Homo sapiens: one gene and its partners. The protein of the gene in region 1 purifies or fractionates together with the protein of each later gene. This does not show direct contact. Each region holds a gene or a part of one and is shown in the gene's direction. Other genes may lie near its edges. The genes, in order: NAXD, NFXL1 and CLN6.

The links.
Region 2: the proteins of NAXD (region 1) and NFXL1 purify together in Homo sapiens (affinity purification with mass spectrometry; one large-scale study listed by BioGRID and IntAct). This does not show direct contact.
Region 3: the proteins of NAXD (region 1) and CLN6 purify together in Homo sapiens (affinity purification with mass spectrometry; one large-scale study listed by BioGRID and IntAct). This does not show direct contact.

Annotation. Positions count from the first base shown.
Region 1 is NC_000013.11:110,628,970-110,632,622, forward strand, and holds part of NAXD (ATP-dependent (S)-NAD(P)H-hydrate dehydratase), read left to right. Parts: intron 1-3,653. UniProt on the Homo sapiens protein: Catalyzes the dehydration of the S-form of NAD(P)HX at the expense of ATP, which is converted to ADP.
Region 2 is NC_000004.12:47,883,569-47,887,221, reverse strand, and holds part of NFXL1 (NF-X1-type zinc finger protein NFXL1), read left to right. Parts: intron 1-1,222; coding exon 1,223-1,343; intron 1,344-1,564; coding exon 1,565-1,724; intron 1,725-2,784; coding exon 2,785-2,876; intron 2,877-3,653.
Region 3 is NC_000015.10:68,216,213-68,219,865, reverse strand, and holds part of CLN6 (ceroid-lipofuscinosis neuronal protein 6), read left to right. Parts: intron 1-1,215; coding exon 1,216-1,330; intron 1,331-3,653.

The DNA of each region.
Region 1 (3,653 bases):
GGGTGTGCGTCGCTGCCCCTGCAGCCCAGACTCTGGACCTTGCATTCTGGTTCCTGTACACTGTTGCCGTGGTCTTGAGAGCCCTCAGGTCATCTAGCGTGGGCTGCCGCCTCCTCGTCAGCTTCCAGCTCGTGTCTGGTGCGGAGCAGAGGCTTCCTACTTCGTCGACGTTCCTGAATGAGGTCATCATCTGGTGTAGGCCTGAAAACAACCCGATTAGGTAGATTCCTATTCATAGCCCCATTCTTCTGATGACAGATTGAGTCCTGGCAAGGATTCAAGACGCCCGTGGGATCTGGTAGCAAAGAAACTGCAGAGATGGTTTTTTAAAAACGACTTTATTTAGATGATTTACCTACCATACCCCTCACCCATTTAAAGTGAACTATGCGGTGGCTTCAAGTATATTCATAGTTGTGCAACCATCACCATGATCAACCTTAGAATATGTTTATTGCCTCCAGAAGCAGCCCATCCCCGTTAGCATCTGCTCCCTGTTCCCCAGTCTCCCCAGTTCCTGGCAGCCACTCAGCTAGTATGCTTTCTGTCTCTCTGGATTCGCCTGTTCAGGACATTTCATATGAATGGAATTATGCAACGTGTGCTATTTAGTGATTAGTTATGTCACTCTGCATAATTTTATATTTAGAGTTACCTGTGTTGTAGCATGTATCAGTATTCCATTCCTTTTTATATCTAATATTTCACTGTATGCATACACCACCTTTGGTTTATCTGTTGATTAATTTATGGAAAATTGGTTTCCACTTTTTGTGTGGATGTGTTTTCACTCTCCTGGGTGTTAAGTGTTTCACATTTTGAGGCCCTGCCACTGTTTCCCATAGCGGCTGCACTATTTTCCATTCCCTCTAGCAGTGTGCGAGGGCTCTGATTCTCCACATCGTTCCCAGCACTTGTTACTGTTGTTGTCTACTTAGCAGCCACTCTAGTGGGCGTGGAGCGACCTCACTGTGGTTTGGTTTGCGTTTTCCTGGCAGCTGATGCTGTTGAGCATCTTTGCATGTGCTCATTGGCTGTTTGGGTATCTTTTTTTTTGTTTTTGTTTTGTTTTGTTTTTGAGACATATTCTCACTCTGTCACCCAGGCTGGAGTATAATGGCGTGATCTTGGCTCACTGCAATCTCCACCTCCTGGGTTTAAGTGATTCCTTTGCCTTGGCCTCCAAGTAGCTTGGACTACAGGCGCCCACCATCACACCCAGCTAATTTTTGTATTTTTAGTAGAGATGGGGTTTCACCATGTTGGCCAGGCTGGTCTCGAACTCCTGACCTTAGGTATCCGCCCGCCTCAGCCTCCCAAAGTGCTGGGGTTACAGGCGTGAGCTACCATGCCTGGCCTCTTTGGGTATCTTCTTTGGAGAAGTGTCTATTCATACCCTTTCCCCACTTTGAAAACTGTTTTTTGCCTTTTTTTTATTGACTTTTAGGAGTTCTTCATATACGTTCTAGACACAGGTTCCTTATCAGAGAGACGATTTGCCGATATCCTCTCATTCTGTAGGTTGTCTTTTCACTTCGATGGTTTTGTTTACAGCACAGTTTTTAATTTTGAAGTCCAATTTAGCTGTTTTTTCTTTTGTCCCTTGTGCTGTTGGTGTCTTATCTCAGAAGCTTCTGCCTAACCCAAGGTTTACTCCTACATGTTAAGAGCCTTATTGTTTTGGTTGTTACTTTAGCTCTGCGGTGCATGTCGAGCTGATGCTGGTGTGGTAGGAGGAGGCTCCAGCGTCAGTCTTTTGCTTGTGGGTGTCCAGCTGTTGCAGCACCATGTGCTGGAGAGACTCCTTTTTCCTCCCAACTTGTCATCCTCCCTGACAATCCGTTGACCCTAAATGTGAAGGCTTATTTCTGGACTGTTGTTTCTGTTTTGTTGATCTGTACAGCTGTCCTGCAACTGCCCGGTCTTGACTGCTGTGGCTGTGTAGGAAGCCTTGACGTCGAAAGCCCGAGTCCTCCAAATTCGCTCTTTTTAAGGTTGTTTTGGCTCTCCTGGGTCCCATGCATTCCAGTTTTGGATCAGCTTGCTGATTTGTGGAATAGGCAGCCGCAACTTTGGTAGGGATGATGTTGAAACTGAAGATCAGTTGGGGGAATGTCTAACAACATTAAGTCTTCTGGTTCCTGGGCTGGCTTTGAACCCACGTTGTCTGAATCTGGAGCGCAGGCTCTTGACCAATGCACCTGTCCTCACACTGTGCTCTTTGCACACTCGTTAACAGTGTGTCCTGGAGACTTTTTCATGGAAGGATATGTGGATACTCATTATTTTTAACAGCCACATCAGAATTTATGGATCTACTACAGTGTATTTAGTTCATTTACACTGTTTTCAGCTTTTTCTTCATGTTAACATCAGTGGTGTCCTGAATCTATGTGTTTTGTGCACTCTTTTGGGTGAAGTTCCATTGCTGAATCAGAGTAAGGACGTTTAAATTTTTGAGAGATGCCCCCAGATTTCTCCCTAGTGTACCAAGGTTTGCTTTCCCATGGGTGGGGACACCCTTCTGCGCTGGGTGCTCTGATGCTGCAAACCTTTCTAGGAGACCCATGTAACATTGCATTTTCCAGGGTTTGAATATTCACTTTTGAGTACTATTTGCAAATACATTAAAAGAAAACACAGAAACAGATGAAAATGTCAGATTGTTGCCAAATACTGCAACATGAAATCAGAAACTGATCTAAAATCTGAATTAGCAAAAGCCTGCCAGTTTTAACAGTAAAGCCAAACTCAGGGCAAGCAGACAAAGAATTTTTATTGTTAATAAAGGGAATAATAAACTTCCATGAAGTCTCAGGTACCTGCCTCCCTGGAAGGGGCTTCAGGACACACTGCTAATGCTCGGACCAGTGTCAGAGCCAAATACACACTTTCCTATGGCTGGAATGTGCGTCATAAACAGGCTGAAATGAGCACTTTGTTAGGCGAGCAGCTAATGCTTTGTCAGCTTTCAAATTTCATTTAATATACACGGCTTTAGTTTTCAATACTTTAAATTATTCTTAGCATGTATTTTTATGTCCAGAATTGGTGGGTTCTTGGTCTCACTGACTTCAAGAATGAAGCCGTGGACCCTCGCGGTGAGTGTTACAGCTCTTAAGGTGGCGCGTCTGGAGTCTGTTCCTTCTGATGTTCAGATGTGTTCGGAGTTTCTTCCTTCTGGTGGGTTCGTGGTCTCTGTCTCAGGAGTGAGGCTACAGACCTTCGCGGTGAGTGTTACAGCTCTTAAGGCAGCGCGTCTGGAGTTGTTCGTTCCTCCCGGTGGGCTCGTGGTCTCGCTGGCTTCAGGAGTGAAGCTGCAGATCTTCGCGGTGACTGTTACAGCTCATAAAAGCAGTGTGGACCCAAAGAGTGAGCAGTAGCAAGATTTATTGCAAAGAGCGAAAGAACAAAGTTTCCACAGCGTGGAAGGGGACCCGAGCGGGTTACCAATGCTGGCTCGGGCAGCCTGCTTTTATTCTCTTATCCGGCCCCGCCCACATCCTGCTGATTGGTAGAGCCGAGTGGCCTGTTTTGTCAGGGCACTGATTGGTGTGTTTACAATCCCTGAGCTAGACACAAAGGTTCTCCACGTCCCCATCAGATTAGTTAGATACAGAGTTTCGACACACAGGTTCTCCAAGGCCCCACCA
Region 2 (3,653 bases), on another chromosome or scaffold:
ATTTCATTTCTGATAGAGTTCCTTACTGGGAAAACTAGAGTGGAAGAAAGCCCTTAAGATGATGACAGAACCTCTTGGAGCGAACTTTATAGCCTGCTTTAAAGATTTCTTTGATTTTGTTTTTTTATATTTTTGCCAACCCATAACAAAAGAGCGTAAAAAGCTGAAACCAAAATAACATTTTTTTTTATGTTTAGAAGAGAAATATTTGGGATTATATCCTAAAATGGTGGCTTAGTACTTAGTCTTTCACAAAGCACAATTAATGGAAAATTGACTGTGCTTGCTACTAACCAATATCAGGTCATGAGAAAGAAGTTATTGGGAATTCATCTAAAAATTGTGTACTTGGATAGATGTATGAAAGTAGGCCAACGATATTATTGTTAATGTTAAATTTTCCAAAGACTTAAATCCATTTTTGCTTGTTTTAGTTTTGAATGAGTAATGTGTTAAATTTGTTATTTAGAACAGAAGTTTTAGCACATTTTAGAGAAATGTCTAAAACTTTATGAGGTACCAGTGTACAGAGAAAAAAGTGTTATAAATCAGAGGCTGGGTGCAGTGGCTCACGCCTGTACACCCAGCATTTGGGAAGCTGAGGTGGGAAGATTGCTTGAGTCCAGGAGTTTGAGACCAGCCTGGATGACATAGTGAGACCCCTCCATCTCTATAAATAATCAAAAATTAGCTGGGCATGGTGGTGTGTGTCTGTAGTCCCAGCTACTTGGAAGGCTGACGTGGGAGGATTGCTTGAGCCCAGAAAGTTGAGGCTGCACTGAGCTGTGATCATGCAACAGCACTCAGCTTGAGCAACAGGTTGAGACCCTGTTACAAAAAAAAAAAGAGAAAAGTATTACAAATAAAAAGTATACAGCTTGTTGAATTTTTACAAACTGAACATAGCCAGGTAACCAAAACTTACATCATTAAACAGAACATGACCAAAATTTTCAACACCTTCCTTGCATCCTTCATAGCTATCACTCTGATTTTGAACAGTACATTTTTTCTTGTTTACTTTATATAAATGGAATCATGCACTATGTACTCCTTGTGTCTGGCTCAATGTTTTGTGGTAAGATTCATTCATGTTGTTGTAGTTTCTTCATTCTTGTTGTAGAGTATCCCATTGTGTGAATATACTAAATTTATGTATTTTACCATTAATAGGCATTTGGGTAGTTAAGGAAACTTTTTAATTGTCAGACTTTTTTTTCAGGCAGTTGCTATCCCTGCCCAGAAACCGTAGATGTGAAGTGTAATTGTGGCAATACAAAGGTGACAGTGCCCTGTGGCCGAGAACGTACCACAAGACCACCCAAGTGCAAGGAGCAATGCAGGTGAGTTTGAAGCTTTGCACAAGCTTCCATCTGATGTTGTACAAATTTAAATTCATATTGGCTTTTAATAATTTAATTTTGCTTTAGTGTTTTAAAATATTAATATTCACAGTATACTCATTCTATATGGAATCAGAAGATATGTAAATAGATAATTGTCCTTTAGATGTAATTATTCAATGACTAAAAGTAATTTTTGAAAATTGTACTTTATGATTTAGTCGACCACCAACTTGTCATCATACAAGTCAAGAAAAACATCGCTGTCACTTTGGTTCTTGTCCACCATGTCATCAACCTTGCCAAAAAGTTTTGGAGAAATGTGGTCACTTGTGTCCTGCTCCGTGTCATGATCAAGCATTAATAAAGCAGACTGGCAGGGTAAGGGAATAATACTATTAGAGAAATAGTGCATTGCTGTGGGTTGTACTTTCTTGCTTTTACTTAGTTTTTCAATGAGCAATGATTAAGCACTTATTGGGAAGCACTGTGCTTGGAGCAGGGTACAAGGTAATCAAGACTTGATTTTGTTTTAAGCAACTCACAGTGTAGGAAAGGAGTGAAACCATTGTTTGCAAATACAGTGTGATAGTTACATTATGATCATGATACAGGTGAATTTGGCAGTCCTCCTTCATATATTGTGGTTTAGGGTTATAGATATCTCCTATAATCTTATTTTAAAGATTTATTCACTTTTTAATATTTTATTTAATATTTATTTATTTTTAGTTATTTAATTTTTTTTTTTTTTGAGACGGAGTCTCACTCTGTTGCCCAGGCTGGAGTGCAGTGGTGTGATCTGGGTCACTGCAACCTCCACCTCCCGGGTTCAGTGACTCTCGTGCCTTAGCCTCCTGAGTAGCTGGGATTATAGGTGCCTGCTACCATGCCCAGCTAATTTTTGTAGTTTTAGTAGAGATGGGGTTTCAGCTTGTTGATCAGGCTGGTCTCGAACTCCTGACCTCAAGTGATCTGCCCGCCTCCGCCTCCCAAAGTGCTGGGATTACAGGTGTGAGGCACCACGTCCAGCCCAGCCTCATGAACATTTATTGAGCCCTTACTAAATATCAAGCTTTTTTTTAGGTGCTGAGGAACAACAGTGAGTAAAATGATGGAGATTATATTCAATTGCTAGATGTTGGAGTTTCCAATTGTTTTTCTCATTTCCTTATTGGAAGTAAAGGAGGCTACACTGCCTTTGTTCTACCATTTATAAACTGGATTCTGTCTCAGTTATTAATATCAAATGTCTGTGGAGAGGAACAATTTCATTTAATACAGATAAAATGAAATATTTCAGTAAGCACAATTTATTGATTATTTGAAAAAATTTCAACCTGCTTGAGCAGAGGATACATGGAACTATTTTCTTAGATTCTTAAAATGGCCATATGATTTAATCCCTCTGACTTAAAATTCTTATGTATTTTATTTGTAGCACCAGCCTACAGGCCCTTGGGAACAGCCTTCTGAGCCAGCATTTATTCAGACTGCATTACCGTGTCCTCCATGTCAAGTTCCTATTCCTATGTAAGTATTAGAATTTCAATTAAAAAAAAAAAACAAAAAACTTTTGACATAGCTTAAAGGGTATCTGAAGTCAATCTCCCTTTTTTCTTAGTTCAGTTCATTATTATTTCAGGCCTAGCCTATCAACTAGTGTGTCTGTCTTAACCTTCATTCTTTTCAAACATGTTTGTCATACTTGCATATAAACCTACTATAGATATCTTTTTTTGAGTCTTTACCCCCAGTTGGAGTTTGATGCCCTTCTTAGCTTTCCATAGCGAGTGCATGCAATTACAAAAACAAATCCAAGGAACATCATTTGTTACTTTTCCCGATGATTCCCATACTGGATTGTAAGCTCCCTGAAGACAGAAGAAAGCCAGGTTTTAGATAAGGCAAACTTGGGGAATATTTAAAGGAAGCCTTGGAAATGAGAGGAAGTAGTTTCCTGGATGGGCCAGTGAATGACTGGGACTGAGCTCTAAGGAGCTGAACCTACAGTAATACGGAATCCTGGAATTTTTTATACTTCCAGCAGAGGTTATGGAGTATAGGGGAAAAAGCACAGAATGCTGAGAAGCAACATAAAGTTAGAAAAGGGGCTGTTGTCTACAACTGAGGTGCCAAATTAAACATTGGTATTTCTGGTGTATTGGTCTTTTAAAGAGAGGATTGTTTTTGTTTTTTAATTCTAAAAGCTTTCATTTCCACAACATTCCTCCCAGTTGAAATAGCATGTATATTTTTGTGTATTGGTCACACAGTCAAGTTGGGAGGCAAAGTGTTGTTAGGAGATAT
Region 3 (3,653 bases), on another chromosome or scaffold:
TGTTCTTGGCACAAACGAGACGATGAAACCCACACCTCAGTCCTCTTAGGATGTGGCTGGCTGCTTGTCCCTGGAGGTGTGCAAGTAATTGCAGGGACTCTGTAAAGAGGATTTGGACTCTGATAGGGAGGTGGGTGAGTTGGGAGAACCTTAAAGGTCACCCCTGTTCTCGAGGGTCTAGATGGGAGAGTACAGCTCCAGCCCCATTATGCCAGACTGGGTTGGCGTTGAAATGCTCCCTGCAGTGGGCTGGTGGGGCTTTGGGAAAAGCTTCATCAGGGAAGCCTTCCCAGAGGAGGCAGCACTGGTCCTGGAACTTCAGTGCATCTGTGAACAGCAGATGACCAACTGTTTAGTGAGAGGGACAGGCCTCCAAAGATGTATCGTGAGGCAGTACTCCACTTCCTGCTGTGTCTCTCACATCACCTTGCTTCTGCTGGCTCCTTCTCAGGTTCTACTGTGGACTGCTGAGAAGAGGATTACCAGCAGCCCAACCTGACCTCCTCACAGTGCTGGAATCAAGCGAGCAGGAGGCCCTATCCATTTCAGTCTCTCTAAAGCACATTTCATTGGAGGGCTCTGATTGGCCAAGCTCTGGTCACATGCCCATCCCATAGACCAATCCTGATGGACCCAACTATGGGATGGAGGTTAAAAGTATAAGCTCAGGAGCCCAATCATTTGGGTTCAAATCCTTAGCTGTGTGACCTTGAGCAAGTTATTGAGCCTCTTGGGCCTCAGTTTTTTCGTTTCTAAAATGGAGGTAATATTTCAGCCTTGAAAGGTTTCTGTGAGGATTAAATGAGATAATACATGTAAACAGCTAACAGTAGTGCCTGGGATATAGTAAGTGCTCAACTAAGGTCAGCTGCCATGATCCATCATCAAGTTTCATGCTTTTCAGCCACGATTGCGTCCTTTGCCTTTCTTGATTTCCTCCATCTTTCAGTAGCGGAGAAACCCCAGCAATTACACCTGTTCAGCTGTTTCCTTCCTGAATCAGAGAGAAGCTAAGGTCGGGGCAGCTGAAGTCCACCTTCTCCTTGACCACAGGGCCAGACCCCAGTATATCCAGCAAAACCCTATCCATAGAACTCAATTATGTGTGTCTCCTCCTGTCCTCAAGTCCCCAGACCTCTTTGTGGCTAATCTCAGGGGAAGATTTTGGTGGAGGAGGAGAGAAGAGCTGACTTCTCTCGTCTGGTTCCTTCCCAGGCATGGCTCTGTGAGCGCTGATGAGGCTGCCCGCACGGCTCCCTTCCACCTCGACCTCTGGTTCTACTTCACACTGCAGAACTGGGTTCTGGACTTTGGGCGTCCCATTGCCATGGTGAGTGTGAAATGGTGCACAGGGCTCTGACCAGCACTGAGGACACTTAGTGTGGCTTGAATTTGCCGAGTGACCTTAGACAAGTCACTTCTCCTTTATCTCCTAGTAAACTGAGAGAATAGGCCTGGATGCCTTCATATCCTTAGCTCTATGACTTGGCCCGTCAGGCAACTGCCAGCAAGTGGGGGGCCTGAAGAGTCATACTTTGCCCCAACTCTCATGGGGGAACTGGTGGTCCTGAACAGTCATACTGTAATACTGTAACCCCCTCTGGCCTGTGTCTGGAAGCAGGTGAACCAGGTTGAACCAAATCACCAAGACAGACAAAGGGGTATAGGAAAGGAAGTGGAGCACCGCACCCCCACCTCCGTCTCCCCTGTCCTTCCCCATTACCTTGGGATAGTATTATTTTTTCTGGAGTTGAAGGGCGTAGGCTGATTTTGCATATTATATATGACTGTGAGCCATGGGTAATTTTTAATGCCATCCAGTGAAACCATCCCCTGCCTTCCAAGGCTACTTCATGCTTTAGTATCCAGTGGTGGCCTCCACAGACAAGATTAATGCTGGGAGGGCACCAGTGCCCCTTGCTTGTAGTGGGAGGATGGAAGATAGATAGGTAGGTAGGTAGGTAGGTAGGTAGGTAGGTAGGTAGGTAGGTAGATAATTGACAGATGATAGATAATAAATAGACGAACGTGAAGAAAATTAAGTGAGATATCACCAGGTATCAAGTCATTATTTGGTAGTGGGGGCACAGTGTGACTATTCATGGCCCCCAGACCCCTCCCACCCAACTTGCTGACAGTTGCCTGACGGGCCACAGTCATAGAGCCAAAAGATATGAAGGCATCCAGGCCTATACTCTCAGTTTACTGGAAGATAAACGGGAAGTGACTTTTCGAAGGTCACTCAGCAAATTCAAGTGTAAAAATAACAATATCCAGTGCTGAAACTGGCACTTTGTACATACTAGTGATCATGCAAATTAGCAAAGCCCTTTTGGGGCCGGGCATGGTGGCTCATGCCTATAATCCTAGCACTTTGGGAAGCTGAAACAGGAACATCACTTGAGCCCAGGAGTTTGAGATCAGTCAGGGCAATATAATGAGACCCTGTCTCTATAAAAGATTTGTAAATTAGCTGGGTGTGGTGATGTGCACCTGTAGTCCCAGCTACTCAGGACTGAGCTGGGAAGATCTCCTGAGCCTGGGAAGTTGAGGCTGCAGTGAGCCGTGATCACACCGCTGCACTCCAGCCTGGGCAACACAGTGAGACCCTGTCTCAAAAAACAAAACAAACAAAAAGCAAAGCCTTTTTGGAAAGCAGTAATAATTCATAAGTAACAACTTGGCAAGATTAGTACTTAGAATAGTGCCTAACACAATAAGTGTTTAATGCATTTTTACTGAATGAATAATAATTATAGCAAAGTTAGAATAGTGGCTAACATCGAATGTTTACTCTGTTCTAAGCTCTTTATGTGTTTCAGTTTATTTAATTCTCATATCAACACTATTGCTGATCTCAATGTTATAGATGAGGAAACTTGAGGAGAGAGAGAATAAGTAACTGGCTCGAGGTCAAGCATAGAGGCCAGCATCTGCCCAGGCATTCTGGCCCTGGAGCCCCTTTCTGACAAGGTTGAATTCTCTGTCACATAAATATCCAGAATCCTAATATATTCATCCCTCTGACCCAGTAATACCCTTCCGAGAATCTGCCCGTAGGGATATAATCAGCAAGAAGACAGCAGTTTCCTCTAACTCAAAGATGTTCATTGCAGTGGTGTTTATGATAGCCAAACCTTAGAAGTGACTTGCGTGTCCAGCATTAGGGACTGGGTAAATCAGTTTTGCTATGTCCATTATAGAGAATGTTTCCTGGCAATTAAGCAGAAATTATGGATACTATAGAGCAACCTGGAATATTTAAGGAGAAAAAAGGTTCCTAAATGACATGCAGACTGACTAATTGCAAGTCAATAACGAGCTTGTCTACCTGGGATCAAAGACTTGATAGGTGTAAAGAAAAGCTGTCCTGGCAATGCTGTCAGGGAGTGATGGTGGGTGCTGGTTCTCCTTCCTGCAGTCTTTTTGAAGGTTGCCTTTTAAATGTGGAAAAATAAGAGGAATTGAGCCAAGAGTTGGGGCATCTGGTTGGGTTTGTGGGTGACCTAGGGCAAGTCACTGTCCTGGGCTTCATTTCTCTCTCCAAGAAGACTGGCTGGACTGGCTGCTCTGAACCTTCTTCTAGCATGAAGGAACCACATACTGGGGGCCAAAGAAGCTGCCCATCAAACTGGTGCTAGAGAGAGAGATGA